2 linked regions of the Homo sapiens genome follow. The protein of the gene in region 1 interacts with the protein of each later gene in a biochemical or structural test. Each region holds a gene or a part of one and is shown on either strand. Other genes may lie near its edges.

What was found.
Region 2: of the proteins of SIRT2 (region 1) and PHGDH, one has a biochemical effect on the other in vitro, tested with the Homo sapiens proteins (one large-scale study listed by BioGRID).

What each region holds. Positions count from the first base shown.
Region 1 is NC_000019.10:38,882,606-38,886,418, reverse strand, and holds part of SIRT2 (NAD-dependent protein deacetylase sirtuin-2), read left to right. Parts: intron 1-2,662; coding exon 2,663-2,792; intron 2,793-3,813. UniProt on the Homo sapiens protein: NAD-dependent protein deacetylase, which deacetylates internal lysines on histone and alpha-tubulin as well as many other proteins such as key transcription factors.
Region 2 is NC_000001.11:119,710,353-119,714,265, forward strand, and holds the start of PHGDH (D-3-phosphoglycerate dehydrogenase), read left to right. Parts: upstream 1-1,581; 5' UTR 1,582-1,670; coding exon 1,671-1,808; intron 1,809-2,378; exon of another isoform or gene 2,379-2,446; coding exon of another isoform or gene 2,447-2,506; intron 2,507-2,559; exon of another isoform or gene 2,560-3,108; intron 3,109-3,913. UniProt on the Homo sapiens protein: Catalyzes the reversible oxidation of 3-phospho-D-glycerate to 3-phosphonooxypyruvate, the first step of the phosphorylated L-serine biosynthesis pathway.

The sequences.
Region 1 (3,813 bases):
TTTCGGTGGTTCTTTTCCACGCTGTTCAGTTATTTGCTTACTGTTCAGTTATTTGCAAATTGCTCACTCACATGTGAGGGAGTCAGTGGGTAGACTGAGTCAAGTACCAAAGGCAAAACCAAGATTTAGAATAGTGGGCAAGGGAGGAAAGTTACAGGGCGTGTGGGAACAGTGACAGTGACTCTTGTCTGTAGGCTTTGGAGATAAGGTGGTTGCTGGTAGGGAGCCCAGAAGGCAGTTAGAGCATTCTTTCTGCCCTTGAAGGGAAACAAACCCTTCCCGTTGTTTCTGGAGTCCCTGGGAAACGCTGTCAGTTTGGCCCTGGGCCACACATGCGAGCCATCTCTGCGTAACCTCTGCCAGTGTCCTCTGTCAGCACCTGTTTTAGCGGCATTCCTCACAGGCAAACAACAGCTGCTCCAAAGGGGGTGGTTGTTTTAAGAAAAATGAGCGCGCACAAATGTCTGTGCAGAAAAGAACATTCCCACCTGTTTAATATGGAAAGTCTCACTGTCTTAAAAGAAAACAGTGGCCGGGCGCAGTGGCTCACACCTGTAATCCCAGCACTTTGGGAGGCTGAGGTGGGCAGATCACGAGGTCAGGAGATCGAGACCATCCTGACCAACATGGTGAAACCCCGTCTCTACTAAAAATACAAAAATTAGCTAGGCATGGTGGCGCGTGCCTGTGTTCCCAGCTACCTGGAAGGCTGAGGCAGGAGAATCACTTGAACCTGGGAGGCGGAGCTTGCAGTGAGCCAAGATTGCGCCACTGCACTCCAGCCTGGCAACAGAGCAAGACTCCGTCTCAAAAAAAAAAAAAAAAATAGCCACGCATGGTGGCGGGTGCCTGTAATCTCAGCTACTTGAGAGGCGGAGGCAGGGAGAATTGCTTGAACTCAGGAGGCAGTGGTTGCAGTGAGCCGAGATAGCGCCATTGTACTCCAGCCTGGGCAACAAGAGTGAAACTCCATCTGAAAAAAAAAAAAAAGAAAAGAAAAGAAAAGAAAACAGTGGCTGGGCATGGTGTCTCACGCCTGTAATCCCAACGCTTTGGGAGGCTGAAGTGGGAGGATCACTTGAGCCCAGGAGTTCAAGACCAGCCCGGGCAAATAGGGAGACCACCCCACCCCCCATCTCTACAAAAATAATTAAAAAGATAAAAAATTAGCCGGGCATGGTGGCATTTGCCTGTAGTCCCAGCTACTCAGTGGGCTGAGGTGGGAGGATGGCTTGAGCCCAGGAGGTGAAGGCTACAGTGAGCTGTGATCAGACCACTACACTCCAGCCTGAGTGACAGAGCAAGACCCTGCCTCCAAAAAAAGAAAAGAACACAGGTGAATATGCCATCTATGAAACAGGCCATAGTAAGAAAGGACCCTGGCTACTAAAGGGGAAGATAGTGATTAAAGCCAAGGAAGGGCCAGGCATGATGACTCACACTGTAATCCCAGCACATTGGGAGGCTGAGGCAGAAGGCTCGCTGACCAGCCTGGGCAACATAGTGAGACCCCATCTCTACAGAAAATTTTAAAAATCAGCCAGATGTGGAGGCTGAGGTGGGAGGATTGCTTGAGCCCAGGAGTTGGAGGCTGCAGTGAGCTATGATTGTACCACTGCACTATAGCCTGGGCGACAGAGTGAGACCTTGTCTCAAATACATAAAAAAACATGGCTAGGCACAGTGGCTCATGTCTATAATCCCAGCACTTTGGGAGGCCGAGGCAAGCAAATCACGAGGTCCAGAGTTCGAGACCAGCCTAGCCAACATGGTGAAACCCCATCTCTACTAAAAATACAAAAATTAGCCAGTCATGGTGGTGCGTGCCTGTAATCCCAGCTACTTGGGAGACTGAGGCAGGAAAATCTCTTGAACCTGGGAGTCAGAGGTTGCAGTGAGCCGAGATTGTGCCACTGCACTCCAGCCTGGGTGACAGAGCAAGACTCCATCTCAAAAAACAAACAAACAAACAAACAAACAAACCACACCTAGTAAGCCCTCCTGATTCATTTATGTTAATGCTTGCCTAGAGCTGCCACATGCAGCTGTGCAGGGTGCGCACTGCACAAGGATGCCACATCTGAGGGGGCTCCATTAATAACAGAGACATTGTAAATGTATGTTAATTTCAGCAATTAATGACAGGTGGAAATAAAGCATCTGGCTCTAATAAAACAACATTTTTTTTCTGAAAAATGAAAGCAAATGGCCTGAATTTGCAGAATAAAAGCCACACAGGCTGTGGAGTGGCTGTGGGCCTGGCCTCATAGATATTTAGGTTTGGGCCCCTTTTTTTTTTTTTTTTTTTTTAATTTTTTGTAGAGACAAGCGTCTTGATATGTTGCTCAGGCAGGTCTTGAACTCCTGGCCTCAAGTGATCCTCCCACCTCAGCCTCCCAAAGTGCTGGGATTATAGGCGTGAGCCGCCATGCCCAGCCTGGCCCCTGCCTTTAAGCAGCCTTGACTGTCACCCTTTAAGTGGCACCATTGGGATGAACAGAAGAGTCTTCAGATAAACCCTGCCACTTGCTTCTCCTCCCTCCCTTCTCCACCTGTCCCCACCACCTCACTGCTCCTCGTGGCCCTCAACTCCCTACTGTGCCTTCTGGCCTACAAGGGGTGGCTCACTCCTCACCCCTCTTCCCTCCATCTCTCCCTCTAGAACATAGATACCCTGGAGCGAATAGCCGGGCTGGAACAGGAGGACTTGGTGGAGGCGCACGGCACCTTCTACACATCACACTGCGTCAGCGCCAGCTGCCGGCACGAATACCCGCTAAGCTGGATGAAAGGTGAGGCTGGAGGGCATCCTGAGGGCAGGCCTCCTCTCAGCACCAGGAGCAGTGTCTCCATGCAGTGGGCACCCATTCTGTCCTGCTCAATTCTTTGGGGTTTTTTTGTTTTGTTTGTTTGTTTTTGAGACAGAGTCTCACTCTGTCGCCCACGCGGGGAGTTCAGTGGGTGATCATGGCTCACTGCAGCCCAACTGCCTGATTTCCTGTCTTTGGCTGTTTTTAATATATGATAGTAGGCCAGGAGCAGTGGCTCACACCTGTAATCCTAGCACTTTGGGAGGCCAAGGCGGGCAGATCACCTGAGGTCAGGAGTTCAAGACCAGCCTGGCTAACATGGTGAAACCCCGTTTCTACTAGAAATACAAAAAAAAAAAAATTAGCCTGGTGTGGTGGCATGCGCCTGTAATCCCAGCTACTCAGGAGGCTGAGGCAGGAGAATCGCTTGAACCTGGGAGGCGGAGGCTGCAGTGAGCTGAGTTCGCACCATTGCACTCCAGCTTGGGCAACAAGAGCAAAACTCTGTCTCAAAAAAAAAAAAAAAAAAAAAACAAGAAGTCACTTATTCCACTCATGGAAAGCCATTTCTGACATTCTTTATGCTGATTTAACAAAGCCTCTGGTGTCCCTGTGAGATAAGGACAGCTGCAGCATTTGCAGAAGGGCCTCTGGAGTGTGGCTGTTCTGATAAAATGCCAGCTGAGTGCCCCTGGGCTGAGGATTCCTGAATAGCCCAACTGCAAGCAGCTGGGGGCAGTGTACAATTCACATTACCCCCATTATGTGTCATTGACAGCAGCGTCACAGGCAGCACCCACGGTGTCATGCTGTCCATGCAGAAATATTTTAAAGAAAATTACCGACTACTGACATTGAAACAATGCTTTATAAATGTGTGCTGAATGAATGAATGGACAGTTGAGCAAATGACTTAGAATTCAGTGGGTTGCAAGTGACAGAAATGCTTTCTTTCTTTCTTTTTTTTTTTTTTGAGATGGAGTCTTGCTCTGTCACCCAGGCT
Region 2 (3,913 bases), on another chromosome or scaffold:
TGTCCCTAGACTCCAGGGTACTGCTGGGCACTTCAAGAGAGACAGAGAATTTGAATACTCATGAGTCTTGGAATGTAGGAATAACAATTCATCCGAACAAGCAAACATGATAGACAATTTTTTTTTTTACCCACTGAGGACATTGTGTCTAAAAATCTGATTTGTGCCCAGGAATTATCTGTATAGAATTTTCATTACTTTATAGAATTGATATTGCATAGTTCTGTAGGATAAGGATCTAGCACTTGAGTTATGAATAGCTCAGGATGACATAACACACAATGGTTAGTTGGACTGGATATGTCCATAAAGCTGAATTCTAATTCAACTATGAGCATCTCTGATTCTGCTTCTGATTCTAGGTGACTTTAATCCCAAATTGAATTTTCTGACATTTCTGTAAAATGGGGCATGAGAGAGCACGTCGGTTATGGGGTTTAAATATAAAAGAGTTAAGAGCTGAGAAGTGCCTCCTTGGTCAATTAAACCACACTGACATCCCGTTTTCCTTTTCTTCTTTTTCATAATTAGAGAGGAAGTGGAGGGAAAGGAAATAAATAACTTTAACAAAGTATGCCTAGTTTAAATGCACCAGGTCCCCGCTCTTTTATAAACTCATAATTCTCATTGCATCACTAATTTGAAATTAATCACAGCTCCTTGGTGTCTCAGAAAGCTTCCTATTGCTTTTCACTACGTAACTTTCCAAGTCTGTGTGTTTGGTACTCTAGGATGTTAGGCCACCAGAGGAAAGAGGATGTATCTTTTTTTTTTTTATACTTTAAGTTTTAGGGTACATGTGCACAATGCGCAGGTTAGTTACATATGTATACATGTGCCATGCTGGTGTGCTGCACCCATTAACTCGTCATTTAGCATTAGGTATATCTCCTAATGCTATCCCTCCCCCCCTCCCCCCACCCCACAACAGTCCCCAGAGTGTGATGTTCCCCTTCCTGTGTCCATGTGTTCTCATTGTTCAATTCCCACCTATGAGTGAGAATATGCGGTGTTTGGTTTTTTGTTCTTGCGATAGTTTACTGAGAATGATGATTTCCAATTTCATCCATGTCCCTACAAAGGACATGAACTCATCATTTTTTATGGCTGCATAGTATTCCATGGTGTATATGTGCCATATTTTCTTAATCCAGTCTATCATTGTTGGACATTTTCTTTTTGATAGTCGAATTCCCTTCAACGTCTAGCACAGTGCCTTGCACATTTACCCACTCAAAAAAAATTTCGTAAGGAATTAATAAATGAATCCTTAGGAGGAAAAGTGAAAATGAAGTTTTTCTCTCAGGATGAGGTGTATTTCTCCGTTCATTTCAGATATGCATCAGCTAGTCAGCGTAAATTGTGCTTTTTATATGCTCACCAGGTGTAGGTAAGAGCTTTGGCTGAGATGGAGAAATTCATCGCGGGAGGATAATAAAGCGGGCAGGGATTTGGCAACCTCAGAGCCGCGAGGAGGAGGCGGAGTCGCGGAGAGTTTGAGTATTTCCGTCCAATCAAAAGGAGACTGTAAGAGGAGGAGGAGGAGGAGATGACTGGGGAGCGGGAGCTGGAGAATACTGCCCAGTTACTCTAGCGCGCCAGGCCGAACCGCAGCTTCTTGGCTTAGGTACTTCTACTCACAGCGGCCGATTCCGAGGCCAACTCCAGCAATGGCTTTTGCAAATCTGCGGAAAGTGCTCATCAGTGACAGCCTGGACCCTTGCTGCCGGAAGATCTTGCAAGATGGAGGGCTGCAGGTGGTGGAAAAGCAGAACCTTAGCAAAGAGGAGCTGATAGCGGAGCTGCAGGTAAGGCGAGAGAGAGAAAATTGAGGTCTCTAGGGCAACCTCCATGGAAAAAGGCTGGCTGCGCCCAGGCCAGCGCGCCCCCCTCGCATGCACCCCGTATCAATTAGTTCCGGGGCCTCCTGAGATTGGGGGGTAGAGAAGAACGGGGGCGGGAGGAGGCAGAAAGAGGGAAGAACAAACGGCGGCGAGATGCAAACTTTTCTTTTAGTTTGCAACCGCGTCTTTCACGTTGGCATGCCTCCGCTAGCATTGCAAAGTGCGGGCTGCTCCAACTGGTCCTGCAGGCTGCTCGCGGATGCCAGCGCGGGATGCCAGCGCGGCGCCCCAGCGCCTTAGCGCGCAATTGTTCTGGCAGCCTCGCGCCGCCTCTCCCCCAACCCCCAACCGCCTCCGCGCGGGGCGATCGGGAGAGGGGCCCCAAAGTGGCTTCTTTGCGGGGAACCCAGGGACTGGCGATTCTTCCCAACCAAGTTCTGGGCCGCCCCGCCGATTCTAGCCTGCCTTGGCGGTGGCGGGGTTGGGGGGGTCGGGGGGCGGGGGGAAGCTGGCGGAGACCCAACCAGTCTGGTGGCTGCTGGGGCAGCTGGAGGGGAAGGCAGCCCTCGTAAGGCAGCAAACACGTACCCGCCCCTCGTCTGATGCAAGACTGCTCCGTGCTTTCGCCGCCCCTCTGCCTCCTGGGAGCCTTCGGAGGAAAGGGAGGCGGGCGGGGAGCGCTGGGGTCCAGATTTAGCCTCCTCCCCACCTTTGGTTTATCGCTGGTTGGGAGTGACCAGACTCGACTAGAATCCGATCCCAAACGCTCCCAGATGATTTATAGTCTTAGCAAATTTTTATCTCCTTTTGTTGTGATATATAATTAATCTACTTCAAATCTTTATCCACCGTGTTTGAAAAGGCCTGCTGGGCCTGGTGGCCTTGTCCGGAATATTTATTTTGTGAACTCTTCACTCCAGTGCCTGCACTTTCGACCTCTGTAGTCGACCCAGCTGCCCAGTCTCTACCTCACCTGATCCAGTATATTCTCCCCCACCCTCCAAATCGCACAACCGCCTTCTGCCCGCCTCAGCCCTGTCCACCACCTTCAGCCGTCTCCTCCTCCGAGGACCCCTTAGACCGCAGAGGCTGCTGTTGTTGCTTTAGTTGTGCCACAACCACGTGGTCCTGGAAACTGCCTCGCTCACTTTGTCTGCCTTTGTATCTGCTGGCGTGGATCTTGTCACCATGGCATGACACTATATCCAAGTATCCAGCTCTGCCCTGTACTCAGAAGAATTTGGTCCCTGCCTTCAAGAAGTTTGTAAGCTGGTTAGGGAGCATGGCTAATACGCAGGAGACAGTTGAGCAGATGACACAAGAGCATAGCCCCGAATTAGACCATCCAGCTCCCTAACCTTTGCGTGTTCCCCTTCTGGAAAAGCCAGAGAAAGGTCCAATCATCATGCACAGAATTGGTGGGCAAGGGCTTAGGACTTGAGTAGGATTGGACGGGTGGCAGGCTCCTCACATCTGTCACCTCCTTTCTTGTGTGAAATTGTATCAGTGGCTCTGGGGAACAACCAGGAAAGGCAGTGGGGTGTCCTGCAGAACAGCCTCTGACTCTCACCTCCACCAGAGCACCAGGTTGGGAAGAGGGTGGCAATCAAGTGCTTTCACCTCTCTAAAGGAAATTAGAAACCTGATACCCCAGTGAGGGGGTGGGGATAGGGAGGGATGAGGGCAGAATTGAGAGGAATGGGAGGCCTCATCCATAATGAGGGGTTGTTCCATGAAGTCAGGAATCAGCTGGGTGGATGCTGGGAGTCTGGTGCTGAAACTTGGAGAACATTTTAAAGGCGCTGAAAACTCTTGGCAGGAGAGGAGGAGTGTTTGTTGGCTAACTTGACTGCTGGGCATTTTTGGACTGTTTGGGAGGGCTCAGCTTTCTTGTCTGTCTTTGCAACACATTTGGTTCAGAATGCCAATTAATCTCCTTGGTCAGCCCACTGAAGGGTCCTCATTTCTACACTATGCCTTTTTATTCTGCATGAAGAGGTGTCTGGCATAGTGTCTCCTGCCCTCCCCCACTGAAGTCTCTTTAATGCTGAAGGAAGCTTCGGCAGCGT